4 linked regions of the Homo sapiens genome follow. The protein of the gene in region 1 interacts with the protein of each later gene in a biochemical or structural test. Each region holds a gene or a part of one and is shown on either strand. Other genes may lie near its edges.

Evidence for each region. The genes of interacting proteins can lie anywhere in the genome.
Region 2: the proteins of EGFR (region 1) and SHC1 form a complex in vitro, tested with the Homo sapiens proteins (9 studies listed by BioGRID and IntAct, with this or other methods).
Region 3: of the proteins of EGFR (region 1) and PTPN1, one has a biochemical effect on the other in vitro, tested with the Homo sapiens proteins (4 studies listed by BioGRID and IntAct, with this or other methods).
Region 4: the proteins of EGFR (region 1) and PTPN6 form a complex in vitro, tested with the Homo sapiens proteins (3 studies listed by BioGRID).

Annotation. Positions count from the first base shown.
Region 1 is NC_000007.14:55,199,793-55,204,581, reverse strand, and holds part of EGFR (epidermal growth factor receptor isoform a precursor), read right to left. Parts: intron 4,267-4,789; coding exon 4,169-4,266; intron 3,395-4,168; coding exon 3,227-3,394; intron 2,848-3,226; coding exon 2,800-2,847; intron 2,066-2,799; coding exon 1,957-2,065; coding exon of another isoform or gene 1,817-1,956; exon of another isoform or gene 1,506-1,816; intron 1-1,505. UniProt on the Homo sapiens protein: Receptor tyrosine kinase binding ligands of the EGF family and activating several signaling cascades to convert extracellular cues into appropriate cellular responses.
Region 2 is NC_000001.11:154,967,948-154,972,247, reverse strand, and holds the start of SHC1 (SHC-transforming protein 1), read left to right. Parts: upstream 1-1,500; 5' UTR 1,501-1,721; coding exon 1,722-2,216; intron 2,217-2,799; coding exon 2,800-2,870; intron 2,871-3,413; coding exon 3,414-3,477; intron 3,478-3,633; coding exon 3,634-3,753; intron 3,754-3,990; coding exon 3,991-4,044; intron 4,045-4,216; coding exon 4,217-4,268; intron 4,269-4,300. UniProt on the Homo sapiens protein: Signaling adapter that couples activated growth factor receptors to signaling pathways. Participates in a signaling cascade initiated by activated KIT and KITLG/SCF.
Region 3 is NC_000020.11:50,513,383-50,516,882, reverse strand, and holds part of PTPN1 (tyrosine-protein phosphatase non-receptor type 1), read right to left. Parts: intron 1-3,500. UniProt on the Homo sapiens protein: Tyrosine-protein phosphatase which acts as a regulator of endoplasmic reticulum unfolded protein response. Mediates dephosphorylation of EIF2AK3/PERK; inactivating the protein kinase activity of EIF2AK3/PERK.
Region 4 is NC_000012.12:6,950,052-6,954,155, reverse strand, and holds the start of PTPN6 (tyrosine-protein phosphatase non-receptor type 6), read right to left. Parts: upstream 2,801-4,104; 5' UTR 2,644-2,800; coding exon 2,636-2,643; intron 2,548-2,635; coding exon 2,425-2,547; intron 2,174-2,424; coding exon 1,979-2,173; intron 1-1,978. UniProt on the Homo sapiens protein: Tyrosine phosphatase enzyme that plays important roles in controlling immune signaling pathways and fundamental physiological processes such as hematopoiesis.

The sequences.
Region 1 (4,789 bases):
GTGTGTGGTGTGTATGTGTGTGGTGTGTATGTGTGTGTGTATATATGCGTATGTGTGGGGTGTATATGTTTGTGTGTGTGTGGGGTTTTTGTGGTGTGTGTGTGGTGTGTGTATTTGTGTGTGTTGTGTGTATATGTGGTGTGTGTGTACATGTGTACATATGGTGTGTGGTGTGTATATGTCTATATGTTTATGCATGTGTGGTGTCTGTGTGGTGTTGGTGTGTATGTGTGCATACATATGTGTATGTGGTGTGTATGTGTGTGTGTGGCGTGTGTACATGTGTGGTGTGTGGATGTGTATGTATGTGTGGTGTGTGTGTGGTGTGTATGTGTGTGTGGTGTGTGTGTACGTTTGTGTATATGTGGTGTGTGTGTACATGTGTATGGTGTGTGTCGTGTGTGTCTGTGTGTATGTGTGTGTGTAGTTGGTGTGTGTAGTTGGTGTGTAAAGAGGTATATCATCTGCCTTAACTTGCATTTTTCTAATAGCTTATAATATTGATAATCTGTTTATATTATATTAGATAGCCAATAAACTATATATTAGATATTACACTAACATATATATAACTTACATATGTTATATATCTAAATCTTTATATACATATAACATATGTATAAAGATTTCTACATATTTTTATATATAAAGATTTTGATATATATGACATAGATATTAGATAGCTAATAAACTACATATTAGATATATAGATATTAGATATTACATCAACATATATATAACATATGTTTTATATATATCTAAATCTTTATACATGTGTGTGTGGGGTGTGGGTGTGTATATGCACATACATATGTGTATGTGGTGTGTTAATGTGTGTTTCTGTGGTGTGTGTGGTGTGTCTACGTGTGTGTATGTGTGGTGCGTGTATGTGTGGTGTGTGTGGTGTGTGTATGTGTGTGTGTGGTGTGTGGTGTGTGTGTGTATGTGTGGTGTAGTGTGTATATGTTTGTATGTGTGTGCGGTTTTTGTGGTGTGTGTGTGGCGTATGTGTGTGTGGTGTGTGTATGTGTGGTGTGTGTGGTGTATGTGTACGTGTGTATGTAATGGTGTGTGTAGTGTATATGTGTCTGTGTGTATGTATGTGTGGTGTGTGTGTATGTGTGCATACATGTCTGTAGTGTGTGTACGTGTCTGTGTTGTGTGTTGTGTGTACGTGTGTGTGGTGTGTCTGTATGTATGTGTGGTGTGTATGTATGCATGGTGTATGTGTGTATATATGTGTGTATACGTGTGTGTATGTGGTGTGTGTGGTGTGTATATGTGTATGTGTGTGGGGTTTTTGTGGTGTATGTGTGGTGTGTGTATGTGTGTATACATGTATGTGTGTGTGGTGTGTATGTATTTGAGGTGTGTGTGTATATGTGTGTGCATGTGTATGTGTCTGTGTATGGTATGTGTGTGGTGTCTGTGTATGTGTGTGGTGTGTGTATATGTGTGTATGTGTATGTGTGTGTATATGTGTGTGTGTTAGCAGGTTATGAGTATCTGGATAAAGCTTAAAATTTATTAATATTAACTAATATTTAATTAGTTAAATATACGTTTCACAGGTCAAGATAGAGCCAGCAGAGAGAACAGGGATCAAATCTGTCACAAACACACACATACACACACACACATACACAGATGTACACACATCATGAACACTCACACACACAGATGTGTATGTCCGTGATTTGCTTCATAAGCTAGAAATTTTGCAGATTCATTCTTACAACAGAGGTACAGCAAACAACCAGACACAACAAAGAGCTTGTGCAGGCTCGGTCATGTGTTTATCTGCTCCTTACGCCCTTCACTGTGTCTGCAAATCTGCCACTGTTTCCCCCTCTGGAGATGCTGGAGGGAGCACCTGGCTTGGACACTGGAGACTGGCTGCTGCTGAGTGGGTCGAGGAGGTTGAGGAGCAGGACTGTTTCCAGACAAGCCACTCACCAGGCACTGGGAGGAAGGTGTCGTCTATGCTGTCCTCAGTCAAGGCGCCTGTGGGGTCTGAGCTGTATCGCTGCAAGAAGCTGTCTTCCTTGATGGGACAGCTTTGCAGCTGCAGGAGGAAATGAGGGAAGGTTACTCCGGTCAGGGCTGCCCCAACTTCAGTGTTTGCAAAAATCACCCGAGATCTCCTTGAGATGCTGGTTCTGATTAGTAGGTTGGGCAGGCCTGAGAGTCTGCACCCTGGTGGGTGCTGGTGCTACTGGGCCACAGGCTGCAGGGTGGGCAGCAGGGCTGTGCTGGGTGCTGTACAGCAGAACTTTCCGCAGTGAGGGAGGTGTGCTATGAGCGGTGCTCTTCAATACGGTCACCACTAGCCACGTGTGGCTACTGGACACTTCACATGTGTGAGAAACTGAATTTTATATTTTATTTCATTTTAACTCATTAACATTTAAGTTGAAGTAGCCACATGTGGCTAGTGGTTTCTGCATGGCACAGTGCGGTCTAGACCACGGCCTCACACTTCAACAGACATCAGCATCACCTGGAAAGTGGCTCAAACATAGACTACTGGGTGCCACCCCCAGAGGTCCTGATTTGGTCAAACTGGGGCAGTGGCCTGAAAAATGGCGTTTCTAACAAGGCCAGGCGATGCTACTACTGGTCCAGGAGTCACGCTTTGAACGGCACTGTGAGGCGTGACAGCCGTGCAGGGAAAAACCCACACAGGAAGAAAACTCAAGATTATCTGGGTTAAAATTATTTAGGTTAAGGCATTTTCCATGTAAAATAGAGCCATAGTGGAGAGCTGTAAATTCTGGCTTATAAGGTGTTCATACATACCCCATTTCTATCAATGCAAGCCACGGTGGAATTGTTGCTGGTTGCACTCTGAAAAAGAAACAGAGAAGTTGCCCATGGAATGCTTGTACCACATCTCATCCACTTTTCCTGAATGCAGGTGGTGTGCCTCATGGAGGGTATATTGTGAAGGTGTTTAATTTTTGTCTTAATCGTTAGTTTTAGAGCAACTAGGTTTAGTTTTGATTTAATTACATTCCATAGTGGACCTAAAAGGCTTACAATCAAGTTGTTGCAATGCAACAAAATAATTAATACACTTAATTTATTTTGATTTTGATTTTACCATTTGGTTAAAATTGACTTCATATCCATGTGAGTTTCACTAGATGGTTATTTTCCCTAAAATTCAATTTGTTCAAATGAGTAGACACAGCTTGAGAGAGAGAGAGAGACAGAGATTTCATACCAGAGAGCTCAGGAGGGGAGTCCGTGACGTGGAGGGGCTGCTGAAGAAGCCCTGCTGTGGGATGAGGTACTCGTCGGCATCCACCACGTCGTCCATGTCTTCTTCATCCATCAGGGCACGGTAGAAGTTGGAGTCTGTAGGACTTGGCAAATGCATTCTTTCATCCCCCTGGTGCAGAGATTTTGAGGCTATTAGAATGGCCCGTAGAGATGCTATTCCACTTCTTGGCTATAGGAGCAGGGGTCTATTGCCAGCAGGTGCCTGTGTGTTTGCCAATTTTGTTATAATGAAATCCCCCTTGGTTCTCTAAATTATAGCTGCCTCCCCTCATGACATGATGTGGGTGCCTTAAAATAAAACATGAACCATCCTTTGATGCTTGAAAGCCCCTACATGAGATTCAAATAGCTTCTGAGGAAACAGAAAGGGAAGAAGCTGCAGCATTCATCGAGTGTGCACCTTGCTGTGAGGTGTTAGGGAGCGTATTTTGCAACATATTTTATTGAATCTTTGAGACAATCCTGTGAGCTTGGTTTTGGTATTCCTGTGTTATGGAAGGAGATAGGTGGATCGGCTGCCTGGGTGATGCGAAGAAGTGGAGAGTCAGGGGTGTGAAGCCACGTCTGCCTGACACCAAAGCCCAATAGACCATGCTTCTCTCTTAGACCCAGCTGAGGCTTTGGCTAGCCGGACAGTGAGGACGAGCACCAGAGGAGAGTTCAGACGGGGAGGGGGAGATGGAGTTGGGTGGGCCCCACTCACGGATGCTGCTTAGTTCACGATGTGGCCTGCGCCTTACTGAGGCTTGCTCTAATGCGCTGGAGGGTTTAATAATGCGATCTGGGACACAGGGAGGCCAGGCTGGCATGTGACAGAACACAGTGACATGAGATGCTCATTAGAGGGACTCTTCCCAATGGAAGCACAGACTGCAATTTGTACCTGAATGACAAGGTAGCGCTGGGGGTCTCGGGCCATTTTGGAGAATTCGATGATCAACTCACGGAACTTTGGGCGACTATCTGCGTCTATCATCCAGCCTGGGGAAGGAATGAGAAAAAACAGTGCAATTAGAACACTGGAAGAAATGATAAAGATGGCATTGCTTAAAGAAGGCATTGGTGATGCGACACTTCCAGTCAAATAAGTGATGAAAGAACCAAGTCTTTGTGGTAGACTTTTCTGTCTTGGCCAGCTAGTACTGGTTACTGTTTAAAGACCATGCCAGCACTGTACATTTGAATCAGAATAACAATAATGCCCTCTAGTTTTTCTACGCCCACTCTTCCTGGGGTCAGCATCCTGTGTTACGCCTGAGGGGATGGAGCAGTGTGGGTCTGTACAATTGCTCTCCATGAACTATCCTGACTGCAGGGTGCCCTGCACCAAGGTCCTCACTCAACATCCACCCTTAGCATTCCTTCAGGTAGGAAACCAGATGCAACTTAGAAAAATAGGCTTTAAAGAATTTGGGGTTGGGACTGGGCCCCTACCCCCGGCGTCTCCAGTACAGCACATACCCAGTGGGCATGCATGCAAGTGAGAAGGCTGGTGGGCATGCAT
Region 2 (4,300 bases), on another chromosome or scaffold:
TTGAGACGGAGTTTTGCTCTTGTCACCTAGGCTGGAGTGCAATGGCTCGATCTCGGCTCACTGCAACCTCCGCCTCCTGGGTTCGAGCGATTCTCCTGCCTCAGCCTCCTGAGCTGGGATTACAGGTGCCCGCCACCACGCCCAGCTAATTTTTGTATTTTTAGTAGAGACAGGGTTTCACCATGTTGACCAGGCTGGTCTCGAACTCCTGACTTCAGGTGATCCACCCGCCTCAGCCTCCCAAAGTGCTGGTATCACAGGTGTGAGCCACCGCGCCCGGTAGGAATACGTATCTTTGTTTTTTTTTTTTTGGTCACTTTCCAGCTTTGCCTGTGGCATTCTCCGGAAGAGCAGTGGCAGGAAGCCGTGGGTGGCAGGAATGGGTTTGGGACTGTTCCCTGTGTCCAGCTTCAACCCATCTTCTCCTGACACCCCTTTCTCCTGTACTTATTTTTCTCCTGTCCTTATTGACGCAGATGTGTCTTCTGATCTCTCTGTCCCTTCCTGGCCTGTAGTTTCTACTTCTCTTGGAGAACTGTTTCTTCCACCTCCTCCAGCCAGGCTCCTTCCCTGGTGTGAAGGATGCTGTGCTCTTTGGTGGGGCTTAGGGCCCTGTAAGAGGAGGGATGTGAATTGGGGTGGTTTGGAGTGGGAGTGGGGACCTGATTGCCTCATTCTCACCCTTGACAGTGTGCTGTGTTAACAAGCCCTGTGGAAAGGGGAGACAGGACAGTGCTTGGCTATGAGCCATCGGTCTTGGTGTGGTAGATGGCATACGTAGAGAACAAGCCGTGACCAGCATGTCCTCTTGTTCCCTTCTTGCCTGGTAGCTTCCTGATGTATCATCCAGGTTGAACTTTATTCCCCTTTTTTCACCAGCTTTGCTCTTCCTCTTGGCCCTGCTCTGCATCCATTGGGACCACTTACTTCCCATCCCCACTTCGCTAGCTCCAGTCCACAGCTGCTGTAGCAGAGGATGCTAATGGCCCAGGCTTACTGTATGGGGTAGCGGTTGGGGGTGGCCTGGGCTGGGGCCAGCCAGCTTTCGGGCATAGAGAGGGTGGGGGAATTCGAGTGTCCAACCAGGACAGGAAGGGAAATGCTGAGCTCTGAGATCTCCTCCCTTTTCCACCCCCAGCTGCCTCTGTTTCCTCCCTCATTCCCCTGTACTCCTGCCTGGCTTCCTGCCCCCTTTGGCCTGCGTGTGTCCGGTTTTGAGTGACCCAGACCTCCTATCTCCTTCCTTTCCGTCCCACTCTTCCATCCTTCCCTCCCACCCCCACTTTACTTCTCCCCAGATTACTAGTTGTTTGTATAGGGCAGGGGAGAGGGGCTTGGATAGCCCTACCCCCTGCTCCAGTTCGAGGTTGGGGCGGGGTGGGGGCTCAGCCCCTCTGAGCCTGTGAGTCAGCACTGTCCTCACGATTGGTCTCTCCCCTTAGCTCCCCGCCCCTGGGGAGGAGCCAGAAGCGCTGGGTCCAGCCTGTTCTCTTCTCAGCCAGAGAAGAGGCTCCACGTTGGGCGGGGATGGGGCCTGAAACTGTCTGGGTCTGAGCTGGGGAGCGGAAGCCACTTGTCCCTCTCCCTCCCCAGGACTTCTGTGACTCCTGGGCCACAGAGGTCCAACCAGGCTAAGGGCCTGGGGATACCCCCTGCCTGGCCCCCTTGCCCAAACTGGCAGGGGGGCCAGGCTGGGCAGCAGCCCCTCTTTCACCTCAACTATGGATCTCCTGCCCCCCAAGCCCAAGTACAATCCACTCCGGAATGAGTCTCTGTCATCGCTGGAGGAAGGGGCTTCTGGGTCCACCCCCCCGGAGGAGCTGCCTTCCCCATCAGCTTCATCCCTGGGGCCCATCCTGCCTCCTCTGCCTGGGGACGATAGTCCCACTACCCTGTGCTCCTTCTTCCCCCGGATGAGCAACCTGAGGCTGGCCAACCCGGCTGGGGGGCGCCCAGGGTCTAAGGGGGAGCCAGGAAGGGCAGCTGATGATGGGGAGGGGATCGTAGGGGCAGCCATGCCAGACTCAGGCCCCCTACCCCTCCTCCAGGACATGAACAAGCTGAGTGGAGGCGGCGGGCGCAGGACTCGGGTGGAAGGGGGCCAGCTTGGGGGCGAGGAGTGGACCCGCCACGGGAGCTTTGTCAATAAGCCCACGCGGGGCTGGCTGCATCCCAACGACAAAGTCATGGGACCCGGGGTTTCCTACTTGGTTCGGGTGAGTGAACATCCTCCTCTCCATTCCCCCGCAGACCCCCTCCAGTTCTAATGCTCACTCCAGCTTGGCCGGAATCTCTTTTTTCCTGCTGTTCCCCAACAACCCCGTTTCAGTGTCCTATTTCCTAAACCTTTCTCATCCCTTCCCCGATTCTGTAGCCCCTTCCCTTCCAGCTTTGCCTGGGCCCCCTTCCTTCTTTTCACTCCCCCACCCCCACCCTGGCATGCTTAGCACAATGCCCAGCATGGCAGAAGCTCTTAATAAGTGTTGGAATGAATGACTTCTTGATCTTTCCTCCATTCTCCTCCCGCTTTCTGGAGTTGTCACTCCATCCCAGCCAATGCCTGTCGGTCCCCTCCAAACTCTCTCCCCAGTGTGTGAGGTCCTTCTAGCCTGCCTTTTCTTTTTCTCCTCATTCCCTGTTGTCTTTCACCTTGGTTGTGGGATGTAGCCACGGGAAGTGGGCAGAACTTCTTCCTCTTTACTTCCCTTAGGGACCATATGGGTAAAGTCCTAGGGCCCTTTGTGAAGGGGCTGGGGTGGGGGAGCCGCTGACCTGCTGTCCTCTTCTCCCTCCCCTTAGTACATGGGTTGTGTGGAGGTCCTCCAGTCAATGCGTGCCCTGGACTTCAACACCCGGACTCAGGTCACCAGGTTAGTGGGGAGGGAGTGGATTGTGGGAGTCCTGGGATTAGTGAGGCCATGGGAAACAGAGGAGGGGAGTGGGTCACTTGGGTGCTGCTGCTGGGGGCTGATCTTTGCGTAGTAAAGGGGATTGAGAGAAAGCTGAGGTAGTGATTCCGCCTCTTACTGAAAGGAGGCCCCTTTGGCCCGGATCCTCCTTACCTATCCAGCCTTGGGAGTTGTGGGGAAGGTGGCAGAAGCAGCTGGCAGGTGGAGCTGGAGTAGAAAAGGGGGGTAGATGGAAGGTTGCTGCTGCCTTTGGGAAGGGAATGGGACATTTGGTAGCTGGAAGGGGGTGGGGCTATACCCATTGAGGCCCTAACCCAATCAGCCAGGAAGTGGCCTCTCAGTGTCATCAAATATTAAAGGCCCTTAATTCAATCCACCATGACAAAGAGCCTGGAGTGCCCTGGGAGTCTGGCCTGGCTTTCCCCTCCCCCAGCCCTGTGGCAGCCCCAGTTGAGTGGGAGGCAGGCAGGCAGGCGCTGGGTCTGAGTACCCCTCTTTCCCCAGGGAGGCCATCAGTCTGGTGTGTGAGGCTGTGCCGGGTGCTAAGGGGGCGACAAGGAGGAGAAAGGTACTTGGGGTCCTTGGGGATAGGGATGCTGCTGGGAAATGTGGAGGGGCAGTGGGGAGGCAAGTGTGGGGCATGTGGGGAGAGGGCCAGGAGGCAAAAGTGTGGTTTGCCTGTGCTGGGAACCCTCACCTTCTGAGACCCTGGGCCCTACCTTAGCCCTGTAGCCGCCCGCTCAGCTCTATCCTGGGGAGGAGTAACCTGAAATTTGCTGGAATGCCAATCACTCTCACCGTCTCCACCAGCAGCCTCAACCTCATGGCCGCAGACTGCAAACAGGTTGGTGAAGGTGGGCAGACGGACCAGAAACACTGATGGGGGTGCTAAGGGGAGATCTAGTTAGGAGGCCAAAATCTAGGAAGAGGGCTTGAGAGCAGGAGACCAGTAGGGAAGGAGGAAATGAGGATATGGGATAAGGAACCCAGAGAATGAGACTGGGGCACCAGGGTTCTGGGCCCTGAGGCTGCCTGACACATGGCATTCCCTTCCTTCTTCATCCCCTGCCCTAATTCTCAGATCATCGCCAACCACCACATGCAATCTATCTCATTTGCATCCGGCGGGGATCCGGTGAGTTGGGGAACAGAGCAAAGGCGGTGGGAGAAGAGCAAGGGGCTAGGGATTGGGAAGACATTGATTAGAGAAGTGGGGGTGCTAGGATTGTGGGGATATCTGAAAAGGACTGGGTTTTAGGGGTCAGGAGTAAAGTAGAACTGTAAAATTTTTTGACCTTCCTCCCCAGGACACAGCCGAGTATGTCGCCTATGTTGCCAAAGACCCTGTGAATCAGAGAGGTGAGGCATGGTGGGGAGCACTGGGTGGGTCT
Region 3 (3,500 bases), on another chromosome or scaffold:
CTTAGACCAGATGTAGGTTTCTTCCTAAAATTACAACATAAAGGGCAACTATTCTTTGCATACCTAGTTAGGGTTGAAGCTTTCGTAAATTCTCAAGAATCAGTTCCTCTATCTTTTACAGGAAAAGCCACCCAATTGCTACTTGAGAGAAAAACTGCAAAAGCATAGCGTACGTGTCAGGGCTACTCATTTTCCACATTACCAAGTCAAATGAACTCTATTTATCAAAAACATTTCATGCCCCTCGGGAAAAAACACCCCATTCTTTTGAGTTGTTAACTATACTCACAAAGCTCCTATAAACTTTTGAGCCTAATAGTACCCAACCACACCTTACAAAACTGAGTAACTGCTGCAGTTTTTACAAGGATTATTCAGGAACATTAAATTGTATTTGTGAGTACATTAAGGATTTTTATTACTTGACCTGAACTTAATGATCAGTTAGTCCAGGATCATTTTTACAAGGGAGAAACCAAAACCCAAAGAAAGTAAGGGACTCACTCAGCACTGTTAGTATGACAGCTGAGACTGCAACTATACCCAGACACAGGGGACACTAGAAAAAGCAAAACATGAAACTACTCTCTTGCCCCTAAGGGTGGTCTGATCAAAGGCCAAAGAATGTCATTACCATTTATAGTTTGAAAAAAAAAATCAAAGACTTGGTAACAGTCGTTATTTTATGGAGAACTATATTTTATATCCCAAAATCAAAAAGTATTTTATGAACCAACCACATGCAAAGGCCCGCTAGGCTTGTGAGAACCAGTCAGGAGGGATGAGGGAAGAGGAATTCAACAATTCTTAGAGAGACAAACATATTACCTCCAAGTTGCCTGTAAAGTTCACCGTAGGCCAAGCACAAATTTATTGTTATATTTAAAGCTTCTGTGAAACAAATCAGTGGTATCAGCTTCTACTGGCTAAGAATGCCAGCCTTTCTTCCAAAGCCACTGCAGCAGGCAATACTAAATTACCTCATTAGGCCATGACTCAAAATGTGGTGGGGGCCTTCTCCCAGAGTGACCTCTACTATTGGTACTAATGTGGGCTAATCTATTTGTTTCCATCATTGCCCCCCTAGAGTGGGAGCCAGGAACATGTTTTGTACATCTTTATACCATCAGGCTAGCAAAGTACTGACCATCAATTCAATCCCAACTCTTGTTAGGTACCTACTCTGTGCCAGGAGCAGAGGACTTCAAGATGAATGAGAAAGATACAACAGGTGGCCTCAGGAAGCTTGGGCTCCATTGGAGATAGACCTGGGATATAAAGTAGCAGCTACAGCTGGGCACAGTGTCTCATACCTATAATCCCAGCACTCTGGGAGGCCAAGGCAGGAGGATCACTTGAGCCCAGGAGTTTGAGACCAGCCTGGGCAATATAGTGAGACCTTGACTTTATAAAAATTTAAAAAAAAAATGTTTGTAAAGACGCAGCTACAATGACAGCAGGGCTTTAGAAGAGATATGTGCCAGCTTGTATGAAAACACACAGGTGACGGAACAAAACTCTGGTGCAAGGAAGCACACATTCGAGCTGGAAGATGCAAGCTAGATTGAACGGGAGAGGCATCCTCAACAAAGTGCTCAGCAATGGTATAGAGGAATGAAGGGCGAGGATGAGTTTGGAGAACGCTGCCCTTTCTTGTCTGGCTAGAATGGAAGCCACATAGGAGGGAAGGACTGGAAGCTGGCTGCCATGCTAAAGAGGAGTTTGGACTTTACAAGTGTTATGAAAGAATCAGAAGTAGTTGCAGAGGAGTGAGAGACTCAGATCTGGTTTTAGAACAATGAATTACTCTAGTGATGATGGGACCATATTAACGGGTAACCGGCTTCACTCATTTCTGCAGTGTGAAACTAGAAACCATTGCAGGCTCATAAGCAACATCTGAGAACCTAGACTACTAGTGTGGTGGAAAGGATGCCATAGTGACCAACCAGTGAAATGTGGCAGAGGGAATCACCAACTACTCCAAAGTCCCCAGCCCTCCTGGATACTCAAAATGTGAACATGGAATGGCTGGTGCCAAACTACATCATCTGGGAACAATGACCCAGCTAGAATTCCAATTTTCCTGAATATGGGCAGCATAAAGTAACATGCCCAGCCGATTTGCCAGTATTAGTTGTTACCAGAAACAAATCAGCATAAACACTGTAGGGAGGAATGCCAAATTGTGCAAAATATATATAGGCTCAGGCAGGCCTCAGAAAAAGTACCTGCTCACGCCTGCAATCCCAACTTCAGGAGGCCAAGGTGGGAGGATCGCTTGAAGCCAGGAGTTCAAGACCAACCTGGGCAACACAGCAAAACCCCATTTCTATTTAAAAGAAAGAAAGAAAGAAAAAGCAGTGCTAGGAACAGAAATTGCCAAAAGGATTCTGTAATCTACAAGATCACAAGACAGTTTTCTTTAACAAAGAGAAAAGGGAAAGAATCACACAACAAAAGGCCGTTATTTCAGTAGCTAAGTCAAAAAACCTCCACAGGAAATTTCTTATTCATTTCCACTGTGAAATTCAGTACACATTCAATTACATTATTCAATACCAGGTATTTTAATAGGTTTTGAGGAGCTATTCAAGATAAAATGCAAAATGGAGGAGAAGTAACGGCAGATAACTTGCAGCTAAGAAACAGCGGCATTACCATTATCCCCCAGCTGACTTTTTAGAACCACTGGTTGGTTTACTTACTTCCAAAAACACCAAAGTATTCCTATAAATATGCCAGTGATGTCAAATAACAATAGCAAAAAGTTCTTTCCTTCACTATTTCTACTTGTGCTCCCAGTTAATCTAATATCAGTCCAGACAATTACAAAGGCATTTACACCATTTCCAAAGTACTGATCAGACACCTAAATTTAGTTCACTCAAACCAGGGCTAAACAAGAACATTTAGATCTAATGGGTCACTCAAGATGACTAGAACTTCCCAGTCTCTCCATGTCATTTCCGTTAGTCTTTTTTTTTTTAAGTGAAGTGAGTCATAGTGTATAGATCTTTCTCCTTTGCATAAAATAGTTTTTTTTCCTCTGAAGAAAATAGTATTTAAATAAACATTATTGGCAAATTTTAATATTCATCTTTTTGGAATATAACAACATAAGCTGTATATCAGTAAGGAATTTTAGTGAACTATTGTTACAACATGGTTTTAACCTAGTCAGGCATTAGATTGTATTTCATAATGAAAACAGCTATAAAAACAAATGTCAATTGGAAGAGTGGCCCATTTTACAAAGCCTGCCTCTAACATGAATAAATCTTGCCTTCATGTCACAAGGTATTATTGCAGTCCCCTTTATCTGAAACAATCAAATCATTCACAATGAAATATAGTGAGTGGTGTCAGAGAATCAAAGAATTTACAGACGAGAAAACAAGCAAAACACCGGACCCAACCCCTCTTAAACTACAGATGGAGGGGAGCACATGAGCTATTCTTTTCATTCACTCAACCCTCTCTCCTCTCATTCTAGCTCA
Region 4 (4,104 bases), on another chromosome or scaffold:
CCCTGGATGATGTCACTGAAGGGGAGCCCAGGGTTCAAACGGATTTGAAGGGGCTGTCAGGGCAGAAAGCAGAACTAAGCCCTTTCCCCGAAGCACACCCCTTTCCCAGGAGGAAACTGTAGCCCCACAAAGCCCAGCCCCACAGGAAACCACGTGATGGAAAAAACACAAAACTCCTTCTGGGGAGAGAGTGAGAAGTGAGGTTGTGAGGTTTCCTCAGCCCAGGGACGAGGGGAGGGCGGGCAAATTTTCCAACCGCAGGGATGGGGGGAAGGAGGGGAGGACCAGTCTGTCCCAACCCATCTCACCCCTGCCCGGAGGTGACTCCAGCCGAGAGACCCCCAGAGCCTCCTAACCCCACTGGGCTACTTCAGCCCACCGCCTGGGGACAGGCTAGGACCCCAGGTAGCGGGGAGGGGGCTGAGCCCCTTCCCTCAGGCCCCAGGATGAGGAAGTCTCCATGCAAATGTCAGGCTGACCACAGGAAGCGCAGAGCCACCGAGGGACAGATGCAAATTCTCGCAGAGGAGGAGGCGCACAGACAAGGCAGAGGACACAGCAGAACCTGGGAGAAAGAGCCTCTCACACACTCCCAGGCTCAGGGGTGACACTGGCTCCTGGGACGGGTCACCCAAAAGGGCCTCCAGTGCGGCTTCCCTGGTCTTAACCTCCCGCCCCGGCACTGCCCTCCCTTCCTTCTCTCTCTTCTCTCTTCTCCTTGAACCCAGGCCTCAGCCTCCTCTGCAGGGGCCTCCTGGGGCCCTGCTCCTCTCTTCCACCTCCAGGCACTGGTCAGCCCGTCCTCCTCTCCTGGCTGGAGGCAAGGAGAAAGAGAGGACATGAGCTTTAGAGGGTCTCGGTGCCAAAAGCCCCCTGAGTGTTGCGGTGGGGAAGAGGAAGGGCAGGGGGCAGACACGGAGCCAGCCATGTGAGGCTCACAGAGAGAGGGAAGGCCTTGAAGGAGGCCGATCCAGGAAAGGAGGCCTCCCAGGTGGGCCACAGGGCTGCACCGTGACCGAATCCAGCTCTAAGTTTCAATCAGTGCCTTGACCAAAAATATTGATGCAGTTTGGAGGCCCGAATCTCAGAGAGGCTGCAAGCTGGCAGGAGCAAGGTTCCCGATCATTTCAATAACCGATCCATGAATGCAGGGATCCACGGCAAGGGCAAGTCGGCTTGGCCCAGGGGTGCATGTGAAAACCCCCTAGCGTTATTCCGCTGCCCTTTACTCTAAGGGGATCTGGCATTGAGATGCGGCTGCTGAAAGGAGCCATGGTGTCATGAGGAGCATTCAGAGCCCCCAGCCCCCAGCCCATGCCTTTGGGAGACCACAGGAGGAGTCGGGGAGGCCACAGGAAGGAAATGCCTGGAGTATTACTCTGTGCCCGGGACAGCGTGAGACACTTTACACAGGTGAACACTTCACATCGTGCTCTCAATGATCTCTGTTTGGGCCGGAGACCTATTTGACCCCACAGGACAGACCCATCCCCACGGGGCGGCTGGGACAAGGCATCAAGTGTCTTGGCAAGCATTCATCCCCATCTTCACCCCAGTGTCAGCTCCTCACTGTCCTAACATGTGCTGGGGTGAGGGGCAGACGGAGGAAGGCAGGCTCGATTCCAGAGGAAGAAGAGCTTTCTAACAACAGAGCTGGCCTGCACGACATGCTGGCCACCAGCAGTGGCCTCCCTGTCTCCAGTGGGACCTGGGTTGCAGCGGCCAGGGCTCCCGGAGTAGGGCGAGGCAGCTTTCTGTGGCTTCCTCGGGGTTAGGTGGAAAGGGTGGTAGGTTAGGCTCTGAGACACCAGGTCCCAGGACAGCAGGGAGGAGGGACATTGAGAGCCCCAGCTGGTGCAGGGAGGGGAGGGGATGGAGGGTAGGCAGCGCCGGCTGCCAGTCTCCCTGCCTCCCTGGCTGTTCAGGGTGGGAGCCGGCTCATCCCTGCTTGGGAATGGCGGGGGTGCGGAGCCCTCACCTCTCACTAGTGGGATCGGAGCAGTTCAGCGGGTACTTGAGGTGGATGATGGTGCCGTCGCGGTCCTGCAGGACACCCTGCTGCTGAGTGTAGTACTCCACCAGCTCTGTCAGAGTCGCAAACTTCTCCCCTCCATACAGGTCATAGAAATCCCCTGAGTTCTGGATCCGAATATGGGTCACCTGATCCCCCACCCTGCAGGGCACCAGGCGGTGAGGCCAGTCGGTGCAGGAGTAGAGGCAGGAGGGCAGGGATCGGCTGAGGTCCTGGGTGGGGGCACACATGGGCATGGGTGGGCACAGACAGGGATGGGGAGTGTGGGGGTTGGGGGCAAGGGAACAGACGGGGAGTCAGCACTGCCACGGGGAACCAGGAATGAGTGGTTCAGGGCCTGGATGGCACAAGAGAGTGGCCAAAATGCCCGGGGTTGCGGGGGGCCCACCTACCTGACGGAGAGCGAGAAGTCACCCTGGTTCTTGCGACTGGGCCGAGCCAGGAAGCTACCGTGGACACCTCGGCCCTTGAGCAGGGTCTCTGCATCCAGCCCACTGAGGTCTCGGTGAAACCACCTGGGCGGCCCAGGCAGGGCAGTGAGGAGGGGTCCCGTGGGCACCAGGCACCCTTGCCTCCTGTCTACCGTGGGTGGCAGGCCCTTACCTCACCATCCTGGGGGCTTCCGGAGAGGAAGGGGGCGCAGGGAATGAGGAGGTGCAGCTAGTCTGGGCAGGCAGAGAGCTCAGGGACTAAGCCTCAGATGCAGCTCCCAGTGCCGGGCCGCCTCACCACCCCCGGTGGTCCCAGTTCTGGGGCTGCCACTCCACTGGCCTGGGGCAGCCGGCAGGGCGGGGACAGGAAGAGGCGCGGCCGACCCCTTGGGGGAACTCACTTGTACTTCTCGTTTTAGAGCACAGCAAGGGAAGAGAAGCAGAGCAGGGTGGCACTGGGGGTGGGGACGGGGCCCACTTCCCACACGTCTGCAATCAAAGGCTCAGGAGCATGGCATTGCACATATGTGACAACACATGCAGTAAGGACACATGTGTGCCTTGCACACTCCAGGCCCAGATAATACTTCACGCATGCGAACCCAGACGGTCCCACGGCATCTCTCCCTCCTCCACCAGCTGCTTTTACGCAGCCCTCCCTGGCCCACGCTAATAACAATGATGGCGGTGACAACTGTCATCGAGTGAGTCCTGCTGGATGCCGGGCGCTGTGCTATAATGGCGTTCACATGCCTTGTCTGATTGGTTTCTCACCACAGCCCTATGAAACAGGGGCTATCTTTATCATTTTACAGACAAGGAACCTGAGGCTCAGGGAGTTTAAGGCATTGCCTGAGTCCATCAGTGAGTCAGCTGCAGTGCCAGGATTCAAACCCAGACAGTCCGGTTCCAAAGCCAGTGCTTTGAACTCCTATACACCAGCCCTCAGGGCTTCAAAGAACAGAGATTAAGAGCCTCCTTGTCCAAAGGGGCTGCCATGGGAGCAGGAGACTAATAGTTAAGACCTTGCCAATGCTTGCAAGAGAGAAGGGTGCCCTCCTCTAACCAACATATGCAGTTTGTCCATGCCACTGTGGCAGAGGGATGGACAACATGACCCTGAGCAGCCCTGTCAACATGGGTCCTTTCTAATTCTTGTCCCTAGGCCTCTGCCCTGCCCCAGCACTCCCACCAGGGGGCCTATCTCCTGGGGGGCTGGGGGACAAGGTCCTCACCATGGCTGATTTTCTCAGGGCTGGTTGATCTTAGAGGCCCTAAACACTAAGGTATATGATGCTGCCTACCTGTAATTCCAAATACAAACATCAACACCGCCAAACCAAAACGAGGAAAAGCAGCTCAACAGGGGATACATAAGAAACACATATTGGTGGCTTCCCCTAGGGAGGGAAACTGGGTGGCTGGAGGACAGGGCTGGGGGAGACACTTGGTTCTCTACATACCTTTTTGAATGTTATATGATGGGCATGCATTACCTTTATAAAAATAAATATGCTAACTGGGAACAATTTCTGGGAAACTTTTAGGGTACAGGGAAGGCTCTTTGTCTCTATCTGGATGCTGTTTGCATGGGTGTGTATAAACGTGAAGTTGGCCGGGCGCAGTGGCTCACGCCTGTAA